Homo sapiens: one gene and its partners. The protein of the gene in region 4 purifies or fractionates together with the protein of the main gene of each other region. This does not show direct contact. Each region holds a gene or a part of one and is shown on either strand. Other genes may lie near its edges.

What was found. The genes of interacting proteins can lie anywhere in the genome.
Region 1: the proteins of NUCB2 (region 4) and HINT3 purify together in Homo sapiens (co-immunoprecipitation; one large-scale study listed by IntAct). This does not show direct contact.
Region 2: the proteins of NUCB2 (region 4) and SLC29A2 fractionate together in Homo sapiens (co-fractionation; one large-scale study listed by BioGRID). This does not show direct contact.
Region 3: the proteins of NUCB2 (region 4) and OSBPL11 purify together in Homo sapiens (co-immunoprecipitation; one large-scale study listed by IntAct). This does not show direct contact.

Annotation. Positions count from the first base shown.
Region 1 is NC_000006.12:125,955,583-125,960,253, reverse strand, and holds the start of HINT3 (adenosine 5'-monophosphoramidase HINT3), read right to left. Parts: upstream 3,485-4,671; 5' UTR 3,277-3,484; coding exon 3,076-3,276; intron 1-3,075. UniProt on the Homo sapiens protein: Exhibits adenosine 5'-monophosphoramidase activity, hydrolyzing purine nucleotide phosphoramidates with a single phosphate group such as adenosine 5'monophosphoramidate (AMP-NH2) to yield AMP and NH2.
Region 2 is NC_000011.10:66,368,277-66,373,126, forward strand, and holds the start of SLC29A2 (equilibrative nucleoside transporter 2), read right to left. Parts: upstream 3,485-4,850; 5' UTR 3,316-3,484; coding exon 3,287-3,315; intron 3,050-3,286; coding exon 2,968-3,049; intron 1,257-2,967; coding exon 1,093-1,256; intron 924-1,092; coding exon 784-923; intron 396-783; coding exon 261-395; intron 1-260. UniProt on the Homo sapiens protein: Bidirectional uniporter involved in the facilitative transport of nucleosides and nucleobases, and contributes to maintaining their cellular homeostasis. Functions as a Na(+)-independent, passive transporter.
Region 3 is NC_000003.12:125,549,814-125,554,041, forward strand, and holds part of OSBPL11 (oxysterol-binding protein-related protein 11), read right to left. Parts: intron 2,867-4,228; coding exon 2,368-2,866; intron 1-2,367. UniProt on the Homo sapiens protein: Plays a role in regulating ADIPOQ and FABP4 levels in differentiating adipocytes and is also involved in regulation of adipocyte triglyceride storage. Weakly binds 25-hydroxycholesterol. Interacts with OSBPL9 to function as lipid transfer proteins.
Region 4 is NC_000011.10:17,296,673-17,301,500, reverse strand, and holds part of NUCB2 (nucleobindin-2 isoform 1 preproprotein), read right to left. Parts: intron 1-4,828. UniProt on the Homo sapiens protein: Calcium-binding protein which may have a role in calcium homeostasis. Acts as a non-receptor guanine nucleotide exchange factor which binds to and activates guanine nucleotide-binding protein (G-protein) alpha subunit GNAI3.

The DNA of each region.
Region 1 (4,671 bases), on a different chromosome or scaffold from region 4:
GAAGAAAATCACACAACTAAGCAGACTGGTATGACCTGAAATTGAATGTCCTCAACCTCACGTGACCCGCTGTACAACAATCCTTGTTTCCCTAATTCTCTCTCCTAGCCTTCACAGGAGCTACTTCAAACCTTTTACTTGTAAATAACCATATAACCATATAATTGCTCCTTCTCCTTTTTCAAGGCTTAACCCAAATGTCACCTGCTTAGTGCAGATTTTCCTGACTAAAATTTTAAAACTGCATCCCCTTCCTCTTTATTTTCTGCCATCTAATAAACTATAAATTTTACTTATTGTTTTGCTTATTATCCTTTTCTGCAACGACAATGTGAGCTCCACAAGGGCAAGGAGTTTTGCATGTTTTGTTTACGGCTGTATCCCCATGCCTCCAACAGTGCCTGGCACACAGAGAGTGAGGAATGAGTTTCCTCTTTCCCAGGGTCAACATTCTACCCGCCGGGCCATTTTAAACCTCTCTCTATAGGCATCTTCCCACTGGGATTTGAACACACAAAAGGTTTCACTGTTTTAAAAGCTTTCTCTTAATCCCCAACTTCTCCTGTAGCTACCACTACCTTTCCCTCCTCCCCTGGATTGCCAAATTCCTGTGAGAGTTGTCTGTATTTGCTGTCTTCACTCCTTCCTTTCCCAAGTTCTTCTCAATCAACTGCTATCTGCCTTTTGCTTCACCACTTCATGAAATTGCTCTCCTCAAGGTCAATGAACATCACTTTGGGGACACAACCAGTCCTGCTCTGACTCTGCAAGGACATACAAGGGTCATCTAACCCAGATTTGAGGATGAAGGCAGGCTAATATTGCTGCTGACATTGCTGGCAATTCCTTTCTTTTTGACATACTCCCTTCTCTTAGCCTTTCCAGCGTTCCTTCTATTTCTCTGTTCCTTCTCTATTCCCTTTCCAGGTCCTCTTCCTCTGTCTGTCCCTTATGATGTTAGTGTTCTTCAGAGTTCTGTGTAGGCCTCCCCTTCACTTTTTACCTCATGGGTGATCTCATCGCTTCCCTTCTTTTTCAGTTTCCATCTATAAACCGACAGTTCCTGTAATCTGGGTTAGAGATACAGATCCCTCTACAGAGTGCTAGACTATCCAACCATTTAAAAGACATCTCTACTTAGATGCCTCAAACTCACCTCAAACTCCACAACTCCATAGCTCAACTCATCGCTTTGCTACCTCCCACCACTCCCCTGGCCATCTTTTCTCCTCCTGTGTTCCCGAGCTTAATGAAATGGTACCACCACTACTAGTTTACCCTAGCCAGAAACCTGGAAATCATCTTTGACTTCACCCTCTTTCATTTCCTTATCCTCTTATATCTAAATCAGGGTTTCTAAACCTTGGCACTTCTGACATTTTGAGGGCTGGATAAGCCTGTTTTATGTGTGTGTGTTGATGGGGTGGTGGGGGTGCTGTCCTGTGCACTGTACCATGTTAATAGCAACCCTGGCTTTTATCCATTATTTAGGTCCCAGAAGCAACCCCTAGAAGTGCCAGAAGTTGTTACAATCAAAAGTATCTCAATACATTGCAAAATGTACCCTGGGAGGGCAAAATTGCCCCCAGTTGAGAATCACTGACCTGTATCCATCAAGTCCTCCCTGTTTTACCTCCTGAATACTGTATCCCTTAAATTGATATACTTTTCATAATCTCCTCTACCACATTCTCATTTCAGGCCATCATCAGGGTAGATTAATCTACTAGCCTTCTAACGGGTCTCCATACCTCCAGACTGGTCTCCTCCAAATCATTCTCCACAATGATGCCAGAATGACCTTTCAAAGATCAACCCCCTTCCTATAACTCCGCAACATCTTCCTCCCAACCCACCATTAAACATTGTGAAGTTTCACTTTGCTCTTCAGATAAAGACAAATTCCTTCACATGACTTCCAACACACTTAATAATCTGGTCCCTTGTTTACCTCTCCAGCCTCGCCTTTCATCCTCTCAAACTCTATGCACTAGTTAGACAATTTCTGTTAGTTTTTCTATCACACAAACTGAACCTCTCGGGGGGTCTCTCAACCTGGGACATTATTCTCTCCATTTCCTCATCTGATCAACTCCTACTTATTTCTTCATGTCTCATTTCCTCTGGAAAGCCTTCCCTAATTCTTCAGAGCTGGGTTAGATGCTCCTCCCACAAGCTTACAAAATACTGTAAAATCACCTGACCACAGCACGAGGCATTGTAACTGGCTACCTCCTCTGTATACATTCCGCCCTTTAGATTGTAAAATCGGGACACAGACTGTCCCTTATCTTGCTCAAAAACCTCCAAAACAAGGTGCTTAGAAGGAATTATATTTATTTTTTAAAAAATAAAGGAATGTTTACTACAAAAGACACAATCTTTGGAGCTAATTCTCTCAAAAAGTTGTTTCTATATGGACAAGTAAAACCAACAGAATAAAGTGTGTGCCAGATTATCCGTTTAAAAATATCTGGGCAAAGTCTTCATGCTCTGAAAATGTCCACGCATCCCAACTGACAGTGGAATTCAGAGGCAATTCAATAATAGTTTGACCTCAGACCCACTCCCTCCAGCCTATTTTCTGCCAATCTAACAAACAGCTTTCCACAATTATCATTACCTATTTTCTACTAGTTTTCTCATCAGTATCGGTATTAGAGTGTGCAGGATTTAAAATCAGTATCTTGAAGGTGGAGAAGAATCCTTGTAATAAAAGCAGAGGCCACAAAATGTTATTTGTACCAACTACCTGGGTACCTGCAAACATAGGCCAAAGCATTCGGCCCTGTCATTCACTCTTTGCCCCTGGGAACAGCAAAGATACCGCTGGAGCCACTGCCTGTCAGTCCCCTAGGAGTGAGTCTGTCATCAGCACCCGGACCCTGCAGAAAGGCCCGTAGTGGGCGTATCCCCAGCTTCCCCGAGCCCCATCCACACAGAGCGGCCCTGCCTCTGCGAGCTGAGTAGCGATCGGGATCCTCTGCACCCGCTCCACAACGGCGAGGCCTCCCTGCCGGAGCTCCGAGGGGCGGCCAGGTCCTCACCCACCCCCGGCCGCGCGTCGCCGCCCACCTCGCAGTGCAGGAGTTCGGTGCCCGGGTCCTGCCGCCCCGCGATCCGGCAGAACACGCAGGTGCTGTCGTAGTCCTTGGGCTCTGGTGACTTGCCAGCGGCTTCACAGGTCCCCACTGAGGAAACCGTAGTTTCTGCAGTCGCCGAGGCCTCACAGTCGGGGGCCAGGCCGGCGCTGCGGTTCACCTGTTCCTCCGCCATTGCACCCGCCCCTCGCGGCCTAGAGCCTCGGCCTCTCCAGGGCTACCGGGCCCGCGCAGTCTCCGCGTCCCGCACCTCCTCCGTTTTACCTCGAGACGTCGCCCCTCGCCTGACGCTGGGCGGTGATCCAGGCTTTGGGGAGAGGGAAGGAGACGCGGTGAGGAACTTCAAAGCCGGAGGCCGGCCTCAAAACCGGCTGCCACTAGAGGGCGCGCAATGGCGCTGCCGAGAGTCGTCCTGACCCCTGCGCCTCGTTGGTAATGACGCACGACGTCTGCCAAGTCGCAGAGCGCCCAGCGCGTCGTGGTGACATCACAGAGGCGCGGGAGCGTTTGACATAATGGAGCTTGTTGGGTGTTCTGGACAGGCGTTCTTCAAAGCCCATAGTATAGCGTGTCCAAATATTGTATTACGCTGCCGTTTTTTTAAAAAAAAAAACAAAAAGTTTTTTAAAGTTTGATTTTTAAAATTCGTAGGTTTTTAAAGAATGAGCAAAATTCCTAAAGCCTTGTTTTCAACAGACATCATGTTTGCTGCTTTTTCAGCCACGATAATTGTAGGAGTTTAAACTCAAAATGTCCAAAACTGACCTTTACATCTCTGTTGACTTTTTATTGTTGTTAACAGCACAGTTAGATCAAACTAGCGACCTTTTTTTTAATCTCACATTCCTCATATACAAGTAGATGTGGAGTCCTATAGTCAATACTCTGAAATATCCCAGAAATTCAATGCCAGTGCCTCATAATGCCTCACCTAGACCAACGCAATCACCTTCTAACTTACTTATTGATTTTCCTGTCACTCAGACAAAACCTTCTGTAACTATGTGCTCAAAGAAAAAGTACCAGTTCCTTAGCTTGGTGTTCAAGGTGGACTCTGATTTGACCTCAGCTTTTCGTTTTGTGATACTTCCCACTTGCTGAGCATCTAAAACATGCCATATATTTCTCTAATTGTCAAAAAACGCAAGGTTGGTTTTATAACCACCGCTCTAGAGATGAAGGACCAAACTCAGAGTTGCCCAGTCCCACACAACTAATTAATAGTGACAGAGTTTAAGATCAAGGTTTGTCTAACTCCAAAACCCACCAACCTTTTTGACATACAGCACTCCTTTTTTAACACCAAAAAATTTGTTGGACTAGCTCACTATAGTAGTTACACCCTTGGTATTTGCTGATTTAGAAAATACATAACAAATTGGGAATTCAGTAATGATTTTTAATGGATTTATGTTGTAATAAAAAGTGGTTGTATGTGTTTTGAATTGTTGTACATATACATTCAAGACATTTTTCATTCCTTTTTGTAGTTGGCCCGTAGTTTGGGGAACCACTACAATAGCTTCACTGCCTTTCAGCACCCCAAAGCAGAGTTCAGAATCAATACATT
Region 2 (4,850 bases), about 49 Mb from region 4:
TTCAACCTGCTGCCACATGCCAGTATTAGCCCCAGGAATCCTGCCCCTGTCCCTGAGTTAACCCAGTCCTCACTTGGTTATTACTCCTCACTGCAGGGCCCATGAGCCCCACTCCCTAGCCCCAGACCCAATCCCCATTTCCATATCACCTGCTTACCTCCATCTTCACCCAGAACCCATGTGTCTTGCTCTCACATGCCCTCTCTCTTCCCCAAACCTCAGAGGCCACCCCAGCCCTCCAGCCACCCAAGTGCACTCACTGGCCATGGACAGGAGCATGGCAAGGGCAGCAAAGATCCCAGCCAGGCCCTGGCCGCTGAGGAAGAGGGTGCTGTAGGTGGAGGGCATGGTGCCCAGCTGCCCGAAGAGGCTGCCCTGTAGGACTGCACTGAAGGCTGTGGAGGACAGGGATGGGGGCTGCTGCTCAACTAGGCAAGACTCAGAGGCTCCCTGGAGGAGGTGCCGGCAGGATACACAGGGGACTCTGGACAAGGTTGCGCAGGTGTGAGCTTCCCTAGGGACTCTGAGCACTCGGGGGCAACACCCGCTATTCAGTCCTCTTCTGAGGTGCAGCCATTGGTCTGTGGGGCTGTTGACCAGGAGGCCTGCTCCTAGGTCACCGGACAAGTGACTCTTCCCCTCCCTGTGGGCCTCAGTTTCTTCACCAGGGATATGAGCGACCATGATGCTGTCTGCCCTTCTCGGATATGCTGGGCCCTTTCAATGATGAGGCCAGGCTGAAGCCCTGCATAGGCTGGCTGGAGAGGGGGTGGAGGTGCTCACAGTTGATGAAGCAGACGGAGGCCATGGTGATGGAGAAGAAGGGTCCGGGGCTCATGTCCACCTTGACCAGCGCTGCTGTCAGGGCAAAGAGCAGCAGTATGGCCAGCAGGCTGCCCAGAATGCGCACCGTCTCCGGGACGCTGCTCAGAAGCAGGCAGAGTGCATCAGTGGGGCCCAGGCCAGAGGGGGCTGGGGAAGGAGGCTCGACACCTGGGGCTGGGCAGTAGGGCTGGGGGGCAGGGGGCGCAGGGGAGGGCCTCAATGAAGCTGCCTCGGCAGAGGGCGCAGGAGCCAGGGCAGGCCTCTCACCACTGGTACAGGAAGGAGTTGAGGAGGGTGAAGAGCAGCAGGGGCAGCTGGGACAGCAGCGTCACCCAATTGTTGAAGTTGAAGGCATCCTCGGGACCCGTGTGGTTGGTGCTCAGGATCCTGGCTGTGCTGTTGCCGGCCCCGGCCAGTCGCGCCTGGAAGTACTGCCAGGTGGGGAGGTGGTGGAGGGTCAGCACCTCTCAGCCTTCCCCCGCTGCCTTCCCCCTCACTTGTGATTGCTTTCTAATGTCTGTGGGGACTTGTCTGCCTTGTCCTTGTTCTGTTCCCAGCAGCCGGCACACAGTCGGAGCTCCATGAATGTGTGCTGAGTTAAATGGCTGAAGTCTGGGACACAGCCTAAGCATTAAGAGCCCCCAGCAAGAGCCTCGATCCAGCCTTGGACGGCCCCTCCTCTTCAGTGCCCTGGTTCCAGCCCCCATCCCCACTCCTGCAGCAGCTGCTACATTCATTCATTCCACGGGTATTTATTGAGCGCCTACTGTCAGCCAGGCTTTGGCCTAGGTGCTGAACAACTGCATTCTCTCTAGAGCACATAGCCTGCCACTCCTCTGCTTAACCTCCTCACTCCTCAACACCCCGATTCATGCCTCCCTATTGCCTGCAGGGCAAAGCCCCAAATGGAACAGCTCTTCAGAATCAGATCCTAGTCTCCCTTTGTGCCCCATCTTCTGCTCCATCCTGCTAAGCTCCAGGCAGCCCTGGCTGTGGATCTCCCTCTAAACAGGCTGATCGTCTCTTGCCTGCCTGCCTTTGGCATGGCTGTCGCCTCGGCCTGGAATGCCCTACTGACCACACCCCTCCACATGCACTTTGCCTACCCTACTCCCAATTTACAAATCTCCTCTTCCATGAAGCAGAAGGAACTTTCTCCCTCCCCTGGGGACCCACTGCACTCTGCTGCAAGCCTGGAATGTCACGCATCATGTTACATTATTAATAGCTCTTTGGCCCCCTCTTGCTCTCAAGCCCAGGGGCTGATTCATCTCTGGGTTTCCAGGGCCCAGCACAGAGCCAGTACCCAAGAAGCATTTGCAAAGTTGTTGCAGTGAATACAGATGAATAACCCGGTCCCAAAGACAATGCAAACCCCACATTTCTGCCTTCCCTGAAGAGCCTCCCTGCTGTTTCCTCCTGTGTCCCCAGTGCCTGCTCCACAGTAGATGCACATTAAAAGTTTGTTGAATGAGGCTGGGCACGGTGGCTCACGCCTGTAATCCCAGCACTTTGGGAGGCCGAGGCGGGAGGATCACGAGGTCAGGAGATCGAGACCATCCTGGCTAACACGGTGAAACCCCGTCTCTACTAAAAATACAAAAAAAAATAGCCGCGCGTGGCGGCGGGCGCCTGTAGTCCCAGCTACTCGGGAGGGTGAGGCAGGAGAATGGCGTGAACCCGGGAGGCGGAGCTTGCAGTGAGCCGAGATGGCGCCACTGCACTCCAGCCTGGGCGAAAGAGCCAGACTCTGTCTCAAAAAAAAAAAAAAAAAAAAAGTTTGTTGAATGAATGAGTGAATGAATGAAATTCATGGTATTTCAAAGAAAATCAAACGTTCGATAACCGACTTTTGGGGTGACTGACTCAGGAATAACGACACACAGAGAGGGGTGGCAGCGCCTTTGCTCATTCCAGACCCTGTGGGCTGGTGGCCTTGCCCCTCTGAGATGTGGGCATTGCTGAAGTTCTACTTTCCTAGCCACGGGGGAAGCATTCCCCTCTCCGAGCTTCAGCCCATAATGAGCTCAACGAGGGGTCACAGGTGCGCGGTGAGGAAGCGCCCGCTAAGCTTCATCCAAAGGGCTGGAGGGAGGGGTGCTGGCTGTGGCCACGAGGCTGCCACGCCGCCAGGAGTCTCACCGGGATGGCGGTGATGAAGAAGTTCCAGGGAAGGAGGGTGCCCAGCCCCAGGATGAAGAAGCTGATCCCGACCAGGTGGTAGCTGTGGGGATCGGTGGGAAGGTCACCCCGAGGACGCACCCGCCTCCGCAGGCCCTCCCGCCTCCCAGGCCACCCCCTCCGGAGCGGACTACAACCCCGATCACCCCGGTTCCGGCGGCCGAGGGAGTCGGCTGATGGGAATTGTAGTTCGATCCGGTCTTCTCTGAGCCTCGGAGCGCCTTCAGGGAGCGGGTCTGCAACGCCCCCGGCCACTTGCAACGCACCCGGGCCCACTCACCTGTCCCGCGGGGCGTCTCCTCGCGCCATGGCCGCCGCGGCGGATGCGCCTGGGGTGAAAGGGGCAGAGAAGCCGCACCTGCACCTGCGCTGGGGCGGAGGGCCGCAGACCGGTGGGGCGGGGGGCGGGTCTCCCCAGATTCCGGTGCAGGGCGGCTGGAGTCGCACAGGTAGCCTCGGGCGGATTTCGGCGTGTCTCGCGCTCCGCAGGCTGGGACCTGGGCTCCGCCCCGAGGCGGGGACAGAGGGTCGCGCCACCCGTCTCTCCTTCCCCCACCCGCCTCAGGGACTCGACTCTGGCTCGGGCCCCGCCCCACCTAGGGGCCTGCGGAACCCGCCCGCTCCCCGCACAGCCCCTCCCCGCAGCCCCCCGTCCTCTCCGCGGGGGCGGGTCCCGGATCCCTGCGGCGGAGGGGAAGGCGGGGGTAGGGACGAGGTGTAACCTCACCTCCACCCCCCGCCGAGAGCTCTGTAGGGGCAGCACTGGTGCGGGGCTCTTCCCGCTTCGTCAGCTCCGAGGTGATGCCAGAGCCGCTCCTGCGACCCCTAAAGCTGGAACCCACCGGGGCGCCCCCTAACTAGGGAGCCGCTGCGGAGTCCCCGCCCAGAGCGTAACCCGAGCCGGGCCCGGGCGGGGGAACCAGAGCTGCCACAGGTCGCCCGCGATCCTGGCGGGCTTCGCCGCGCTGGGTCCCCGGGAGTGCCTGGAAAAAAACAGCATTACTTTCAACTCCCTACTCTTTTTCTGTTAAAAAAAAAAATTTGAAAAGACTATAAATCATTAATTTGCTCCTACTCTCATAATCTACGAATAGGTGTGGGTTCTCTGCAATCCCCGGGCGTATCGGGGACGCTGGAGAAGTGAGAGGCTCCAAAACACAAACTAGTTTTTTTGAGACTGAGTGTCGCTCTGTCGCCCAGGCGGAAGTGCAGTGGCGTGATCTTGGCTCACTGCAACCTCCCCCTCCCAGGCAGGTTCAAGCGATTCTGGTGCCTCAGCCTCAGGAGTAGCTGGGACTACAGGCGCATGCCACCACGTCCGGTTAATTTTTGTATTTTTAGTAGAAACGGGGCTTCACCAGCTCTACTGAAGAGGTGGCCAGTCTAGTCTCGAACTCATCTTTTGACCAGGCTGGTCTCGAACTCTTGACCTCAGGTGATCCGCCCGCATCGGCCTCCCAAAATGTTGCTATTACAGGCGTGAGCCACCACGCCCGGCCACAAACTATTTTCTTAAGCAATGACATTTTATAGCCATTCCCAGGTTGCTTATGTTTTTCCTCCAGCCGACTGAGAGTCTGTAGGGGCAGAGGCTGTGCTTATCTGGTCCATTGGTTTACTGGCAGCATCTAGCGCCGTTGAGTGATAAATGGGTGGTTGCAGTAAAATGCAGGTGATTTTAGGGAGAACAGAGACAGCATTAAATTACACCGAAAGAGAAAGTTATTCTTCCCATTTTCTTTCAAGCCTCTGAATATGTCAAGGGTGTTAACAGGTTGCTAACACTTCTTAATCTGCCTTCCCATCCCTTCCCCTCAGTTAGCCTCAGAGGGTCTGCTGACAAT
Region 3 (4,228 bases), on a different chromosome or scaffold from region 4:
TCTTGCAGTGTGAGAGGCTACCATTTCCAGATTCTTACTGTTACATGAACTGATAAGATTAACTGTCCTTTGGGAGAGTGTCAAAGAATATGGTTCTAAATGTGTCTATTCCTTAACATTTATGACCTTAGACATGTCTCATCATCTCTAGACTTCAGTTTTTTTTCACTTATAAAATAAGCAAGTTGATCTATGAAGTGCTTAAGGCTAACGTGACGGAGCTTATGATGGAGGGTAGCAAACTTTTTGTTTTTAACTAATAAAATATGAATGATTTCAGCTGGGTGTAGTAGCTCACAACTGTAATCCCAGAACTTTGGGAAGCTGGGGTGGGTGGATCACTTGAGCTCACAAGTTTGAGACCAGCTTGGGCAACATGGCAAAAATCTCATCTTTACAAAAAATACAAAAATTGGTTGGGCATGGTGGCGCACGCCTGTAATCCCAGCTACTGTGGAAGCTGGGGTGGGAGGATGGCCTGAGCCTGGGAGGCAGAGATTGCAGTGAGCCAAGATGGCCCCACTGCACTTCAACCTGGGCGACACAGCTAGACCGTGTCACACACACACACACACACACACACACACACACACAACAAACAAAAAAAAAAAAAGAGAGTACTTTCTAATGTTATAAAAGTTGTAATTAACTTGAAATATTATTTGGAAATTGGTAAGACATATTACAACAGAACTTAAAAATGAGGAAAACTGAAAAAGAGGATACTTTCTTCATAACGACTATAACACAATCTCAAAATATTAGATTGGCTTAATGATGCCATGCTTACACTGTAAGATGACATTCAGAGCATAGTGTTCTTTGCATAAGAGTTTTCCTTTAACATAAAAGTGGTATTTTTTTCCTATCATTATATTTTCATTAACTCTTCAATAATTTCTGTGGAGATTTTTGTTTTTGTTTCATATTCTTGGTCAAAAAACTCTGCATTTCCAAAAATAATTTTTTCATAATCTTCTGATGAAGTAGAATTAACTTTTATCAGCATATATTTTTAAATATTCTATGAATAGCACCTAAATATTCTATGAATAGCACCTCTGGCCTCCATCTCCTAAAGTGCTGAGATTACAGGCTAATGCCTGGAGGTGGAGGCCAAAGGATCACTTGAGCCCAGGAGTTCATGACCAGCCTGGGCAACATATTGAGACCCTGTCTCTAAAAATAAAAATTAAAAAAATTAGCCTAGCATGGTGGTGCATGCCTGTAGTCCTAGCTACTTGGGAGGCTGAGGCAGGAGGATGGCTTGAGCCGAGTAGGTCAAGGCTGCAGTTAGTTATGACCATGCCACTGCACTTCAGCCTGGGCAACAGAGCAAGACCCTGTTTCTAAAAAAAAAAAAAAAAAAAAATTAAATTAAATTAAATTAAAAAAAAGGATGGAAAATCTATTTCATAGAATATTATGCAGTCATTAAAATATGTTTTATCAATGACATGATAAAATGAATATATTTAATTTAAAAAGCAGGACTCAAAACTATATATATTATTAATTCTAATTTTATAAGGCTAAAAGTATGAACATACACACACAGAAAAAGTATAAAATATTAAATTTATATATATATGGATGCAGGCATTACAGAAGCTTTTATTTTCTGCTTTGTACTTTTCTAGTTTTCCAAATATTTGATAAGAAATATTTAAAATCGCCAGGCACGGTGGCTCATGCCTGTAATCCCATCACTTTGGGAGGCCGAGGTGGGTGGATCATCAGAGGTCAGGAGTTTGAGACCAGCCTAACCAACATGGTGAAACCCCCCATCTCTACTAACAATATAAAAATTAGCTGGGTGTGGTGGCATGGTGGCAGGCGCCATAATCCCAGCTACTCGTGAGTCTGAGGCAGGAGAATCGCTTGAACCTGGGAGGCGGAGTTTGCAGTGAGCGGAGATAGCACCATTGCACTCCAGCCTGGATGACAGAGCGAGACTCCATCTCAAAAAAAAGAAAAGAAAACAAACGAAAAGAAATATTTAAAATCAGAAAAAAATAATTTAAAAAGAGAATTTACATTAGTTCATAGATATACTCCTCCCATCCCCACAAGAAGCATTCTGGAACACTCTAGAAATTGGAGCGAAAAAGTAACATAATATTTTAAACTTAGAGTTAATATTTATCTGGGGTTCCTAAATTTAAGATTGTAGTTTGATATTAAAAATTATAAAACAGGCACTTGACCTTCACGTGCCTGCTTGGGTTTCTCCCAAGCGAACTTTCCTTTCTTTCCTGTTCTAAAGCCTTTTAAAGTAAACTTTCATTCCTGCTTGGAAAAAAAAATACATATATATATGTGTGTGTGTATATATATATATATATATAAAATAATTTTTCTACTTACCTTCTCCAACCATTGTCACGCCTATTGACATGCCTAAGAACTTGCTCTTAGTCCAGACATGCGCATTTACACACATCTTCCTCTCTGTACATTCTGCATAAAATCCTGAGACTGGAGGATGATGAGAAACCTGCTCAGCAACAAATCTGACTGTGTAACAGTCTGATCCCACCTGGGTCAAAGACTCCCCCGATAAAGGAGCATGATTTGTGACTCCCTGGGTGGAAGAACTGCTAAAAACACTGGATGCTACCTCGCTTTTTGGCATCTTCCAGGAACAGTGAAATGTTTCTCCAATGATAGGATTGTATGGTTTTTTAGCAATGGCTCCCTTACGGCCTTCATGAAATGAGGTAAGGTAGTACTCAACAAAGCGAATCATTCTGTCCTCAGCTGTGGCTCCATTAGTGATGGCTATAAATAGGTCTGGATGAGACATAAAGTCTGCATACATTTCCAGCAAGGAACGCTTCTCTAGGATAAATGTAGGAAGCACCACCTAAAACAACAATCAATGAAAGAGGGGAAATTTAATCCATGTGTAGCATATCTGTAGACAACTATTCTCTCTCTGAAAACATTTCATTCTAGATGGGTATTAAAAACAAAGTCACAAAGAAAAAGTATTCAGTCACATTAAAAAATAAGCATTCTTGGCCAGGCGCAGTGGCTCATGCCTATAATCACAGCACTTTGGGAGGCCAAGTTGGGAGGATTGTTTCAGCACAGGAGTTCGAAACCAGCTGAGGCAACATAGTGGAACCGTGTCTCTACAAAAGTTACAAAAATTAGCTGGGCATGGTGCCTTGTGCCTGTGGTCCCAGCTGCTCAGGAGGCTGAGGTGGGAGGATCACCTGGGAGGTCAAGGCTACAATGAGCCATGACTGCGCCACTGCACTTGTACCTGAGCAACAGAGTGAGACCCTGTCTTAACAACAACAACAAAAAAGCATTCTTAAAAGGACAGGCAAATCTGCCCAAGACTAAACATAAATTCAAGAGAGTCAGAAGAAACTTCAAAAAAATCCTCAAACTTCTAGACTGGATAAAAGTATCACCAGGGAAATGGTGTTAAAACTCAAAGTAAATGTTAGCCATGCCTTTGCTCCTTTCCTATGTTAAAATTAAATTGTAGATGAATGACCAAGACATGAGAAAAGTCAATAAATGTCATTCCCTGAGAACAGACTAAAGAGATCACAGACCGAAGCAAAAACTGCAACATATATTTAATCTTAAGCACAAGAGAACTATTTCCAATAAGAGAAATTTTTATACTTAAAACCAGGTAAGTGTAAGAAAGATAAATATTTTACTTAAAGCAGAGTTGGGAGAGGCACTGCAAAATGGTTTAAACGTCTGAGAAAGCAAAATCTGGCAATATTTTTCAAGAGCCCTAAGATGTTCTTACCCATTTAGCCTAGTACTTACATTCCAAGAATCTAGCCTTAGGAAATAAATAATTGAATGAAGGAAAAGCAATGTGAAAAAATAATTAGAACAACCTGCATTTTAAACTACGGTTCTAGCTAACTGAAGTAGGGAACTTTCATTTAATTGACTATTATAGTCATTTAAAAAGACGGTTTTGAAGATGATACAAATAATACAAAAGACAGTGGATGTTGCAGGTTCAGCTGGTGAATTGAACACATGCATCTTAATTTCACTTTCTGTCGAAATTCCACTGAAATTAAATTAACTTCATATAAAGACAAACCCAGAGATACCAGGAAAGTAGACAAAACACAACAAAATTTTGAGAGTTCCTAACTAGAAAGCTGAAACTTAGGCAGTAGGTTACAATATGCACAGATTCCTAAAAAGGCTCAGGAGCTGATCGCACTAGGTACCTCTGGAT
Region 4 (4,828 bases):
CGAGACCAGCCTGGCCAACCTGGCGAAATACCGTCTCTACTAAAAATACAAAAATTAGCTGGGCATGGTGACACACGCCTGTCAATCCTAGCTACCTGGGAGGCTGGGGCAGAAGAATCACTTGAACCCAGGAGGCAGAGGTTGCAGTGAGCCAAGATTGCACCACTGCACTCCAGCCTGGACGACAAGAGCGAGACTCTGTCTCAAAAAAAAAAAAAAAAAAAAAAAGGCCAGGCGCGGTGGCTCACGCCTGTAATCCCAGCACTTTGGGAGACCAAGGCGGGCAGATCACTTGAGGTCAGGAGTTCGAGACCAGCCCGGCCAACATGGTGAAACCCCATCTTTACTGAAAACACAAAAATTAGCCAGGTGTGGTGGCCCATGCCTGTAATCTCAGCTACTCGGGAGGCTGAGGCAGGAGAATTGCTTGAACCCAGGAGGCGGAGGTTGCAGTGCGCCAAGATCATGCCATTGCACTCCAGCCTGGGCAACAAGAGTGAAACTCCGTCTCAAAAAAAAAAAAAAAAAAAAAAGATTAGCTTTAACTCTAAAATCAAGGTGTCTGAAAAACCATGTAATTTAGAAAAGCATCATTAAAGCACAAAGCAGAAACTCAAAAGGTTAAATTGTAAAATGGTGTAGCCACTTCAGAAAACAGTTTGGCAGTTCCTCAGAAAGTTAAACATAGGGTTACCATGACCCAACAATTCCATTCCTAGATATATAACTAAAAGAACAGAAAACATGTTAACACAATAACTTAAACATAATATCCATAGCTGCATATTCATACTCGCCAAAAAACCAGAAACCTAAACGTCCATCAACTAATGAACGGATAAACAAAATATAGTATACCAATACAATGGCATATTGTTTGGCCATAAAAAAGTATAAAATGCTGACACATGCTGCAACATGAATGAACCTGTAAAACATTATGCTAAATGAGAGAAACCAGACACAACAAACCACTTATTGTATGAGTCCACATATATGCAATGTCCAGAACAGGCAAATCCACAGAGATGAAAAGTAGATTTGCTGTGGTTGGGGAAAGGGGCGCAATTAGGAGTTACAGCTTAATGGGCACACAGTTTCTTTTGGGGAACAATGAAAATATTCTAAAATTAGATAGTGGTGATGATTTCACGACTCTGTGGGTATATTTTAAAAAAACTATTGAAATGGCAGGGTGCAGTGGCTCCCACCTGTTATCCCAGAACTTTGGGAGGCTAAGGTGGATAGATCGTTTGAGCGCTGGAGTTTTGAGACCAGCCTGGCCAACATGGCGAAAACCCATCTCTGCTAAAAATACAAAAATTAGCCAGGTGTGGTGGCACATGCCTGCAGTCCCAGCTACTCAGGAGGCTGAGATAGGAGAATCGTGTCAGCCGGGAAGGTGGAGGTTGTAGTAAGCTGAGATCATGCCACTGCACTGCAGCCTGGGCGACAGAGCAAGACTCCATCTCAAAAAAAAACAAAACAAAAACAGACAAAAAGACACTGAATTTTATCCTTTAAAAAGATAGATTTTATGGTGTATGAATTATATGTCAACAAAGTATTTATTTTTATTTTATTTTATTTTATTTTATGACACAGGGTCCAGTCTGTCACCCAGGATGGAGTGCAGTAGCATGATCATGGCTCACTGCAGCCTCAATCTCCCAGGCTCAAGCAGTCCTCCCACCTCAACCTCCCGAGTAGCTAGGACTACAGATGCATGCCACCATGCCTGATTAATTTTTGTATTTTTTGTAGAGACAGGGTTTTGCCATGTTGCCCAGGCTGGTCTCGAACTTCTGAGCTCAAGCAATCCACCCACCTCAGCCTCCCAAAGTGCTGGGATTACAGGTGTGAGCCACCGCACCTGGCTTGTTATTTTTTTAAAAAGTTAAGTTGGTCAGCACCATTAGGGCAAAAAAGAACATTTAAATTAAGTTAAAAGTCAGTGGGCCTCTATAAGCATTAGTCATTCCATATATAAAAGCTTTTCAAAATTTATCTTTTTTAGGTCTCTTTTGATTACTTTCTTCATAGATGAGTAATTAGTAGGAAAACTAGGAGAATATACTGTTACAGAATCAAAAAGAGCAGTATATTTCAAGGAGAGAATAGTCATTATTATTAGATAAAACAATGGTTGTCAAAATGTAGTCCCCAACTGGAAGCATCAGCATCACCAGGGAACTTCAGAAATGCAGGCTCTAGAGTTACTGAATTGGACACCCCGAAGGTAGGAAACAGCAATATGTTTTAACAAACCCTGAAATCTAAAAACTATTGAGAGAAATAAAGGAGCCCAGTAGAATGAGGAATCAAAGATGTTAGGATGTTCACTAGATTTGGCAATTAAGAAGTCATGGATGCCCTCCATGAAGGTATATTCAGTGGAACAGTGAGGGCAGTACCATCACCTTTCCAGTTAGGGAATGTTTGGGAAGTGAAGAAATGTAATATGATTCTCCTTTCAAAATGCTTAGCTGAAAAGGAAAGAGAGGCCGGGCATGGTGGCTCACGCCTATAATCCCAGCACTTTGGGAGGCCAAGGCAGGGGGATCATTTGAGGTCAGGAGTTTGAGACCAGCCTGGACAACATGGCAAAACCCCATCTCTACTAAAAATACAAAAATTAGCCAGACAAGGTGGCCCACACCTGTAATCCCAGCTACTTGGGAGGCTGAGGTGGGAGGATCACTTGACCCTGGGAGGCAGAGGTAGCAGTGAGCCAAGATTGCATCACTGTACTCCAGCCTGGGTGACAGAGTGAGACCTTGTCCCAAAACAAAAAAAAAAAGGAAAGAGAAAATTCTAACTTTTTTTTTTGTCAGTTTTTTATGAAACAGAAGTCTTTGCTTGGCTATTTGTGATGATTCTATTGGTTTGCGTTTTATTGTCTAGTTTTACTCATTTTTTTTTCTTTTTTAAGAGATGAGGTCTCGCTCTGTGTCATGCGGGCTAGAGTACAGTCATATAATCATGGCTCACTGCAACCTCAAACTCCTGGGCTCGAGTGATCCTCCCACCTCAGCTTTCTGAGCAGCTGGGACTACAGGCACACACCACCACATCTAGCTAATTTTTTCTATTTTTGGTAGAGATAGGGGTTTCACTATGTTGCCTAGGCTGTTCTTGAATTCCTGGGATCAAGTGATCCTCCCGCCTTGGCTTCTCAAACTGCTGGGATTACAAATGTGAGCCACTGTGCCTGGCCTCAGATGATTTTTTTTTTAATTTGAAGGATAATTTTTAATTAAATTAATTTTAAATTTTAATTTTTTGTAGTGACAGGGTCTCGCTATGTTGCTCAGGCTGGTCTCAAACTACTGGCTAGAAGCCATCCTCTTGCTTTAGTCTCCCAAAGTTACACGTGTGAACTACTGCCCCGGCCCCCCTTTTTTTTTTTTTTTTTTTTTGAGACGAAGTCTCACTCTGTTGCCCAGGCTGAAGTGCAGTGGAACAATCTCGGCTCACTGCAACCTCTGCCGCCCAGGTTCAAGCAATTCTCCTGCCTCAGCCTCCCGAGTGGCTGGGATTACAGGTGCCTGCCACCACACCCGGCTAATTTTTGTATTTTTAGTAGAGACAGGGTTTCACCATCTTGGCCAGGCTAGTCTTGAACTCCTGACCTCATGATCCACCTGCCTCAGCCTCCCAAAGTGCTGAGATTACAGGCGTGAGCCACCACACACGGACCCTCATTTCTTTTTTATTGTGTAACTGTTTAACTTCATTTTGGTTCCCCCTAACCCTTCATAGAAACAGGAATTGAATGTGAAAGGAAGATAGTTATAAAAGTATTCCCTGCACCAATCCAGGAAGCTTATTTTCTTCTTTTGCCTGAATATCTCTATGTAGTATCTCCCATGATCCACATTTTCTATGTCACCCCAAATAACGTTCTTACTCCTGATACAAGACATTAAGAGTTCTACATCAGATATATTCACCATAGGAAACTTGTTCCACAGATCGAATTAATCCTTCAGAAGAAGAGTAGGATTATCCTCAAAGACAATTCCGGGGAATTATTAGCATAACACTATTACCTTTTCCCCAGAAAAGTTCACAACTTCCAAGAGGAGAGCTGCGAACTAAATGCCACACCTGAGCGCTGACAGACACCACAACCTAACGGGAGTCAGTCTTTCAAAGAAGTTCACACCAAGAACAGAAACTAAAATAAAAGGTTTGTTTGACCCAGAATGAGTCTTTCAAACACAGTTCTCTTATTCTGATTCTAGAAAAAAAGCAACGTAATTTTTTAAGAAAGTAAAACTTAAATAAATAAAGGTAACATAAGCAAACAAAATTATCTTAGGAGACATTATTGGAATTTTAAAATTAACTGGATTTTTTTTTACTCACTGAGTCTAAGATAAACCCAGCTAAACTGATTCATTTCCTTTTAAGGAAAGACTTTACAAGAATCTCTCATGTCAGATCTTTACAACCCCCTTTCTTATTATGAGTACTGAAGAGCTGACTATGGCTGGAATTATGTCAAATAGGGTTCTCAGGACAGAGTCAAATGGTTAAACCTCTCTGATTGATATAATACATAGCCCATTATCTCTTCTGTTAATCTGGACCTGATTAAAACACCAGGACCTCACCTATTCCAAACTTTTGAATAACTTCCTACTGTCCTCAGATAATGACCCAAACCCCTTAACATGATATACAGGCCCTCTGTCAACGAGACTGTGATTCTTTCCAAACCTCATCTTTTGGCCACTCAGGCCTCCATTTCCCATTCTGGGGTCTAGCCACAGTTACTGCTTCCAGTTTCCCATATACTTCTTGCCTCTGTACCATTGCACCT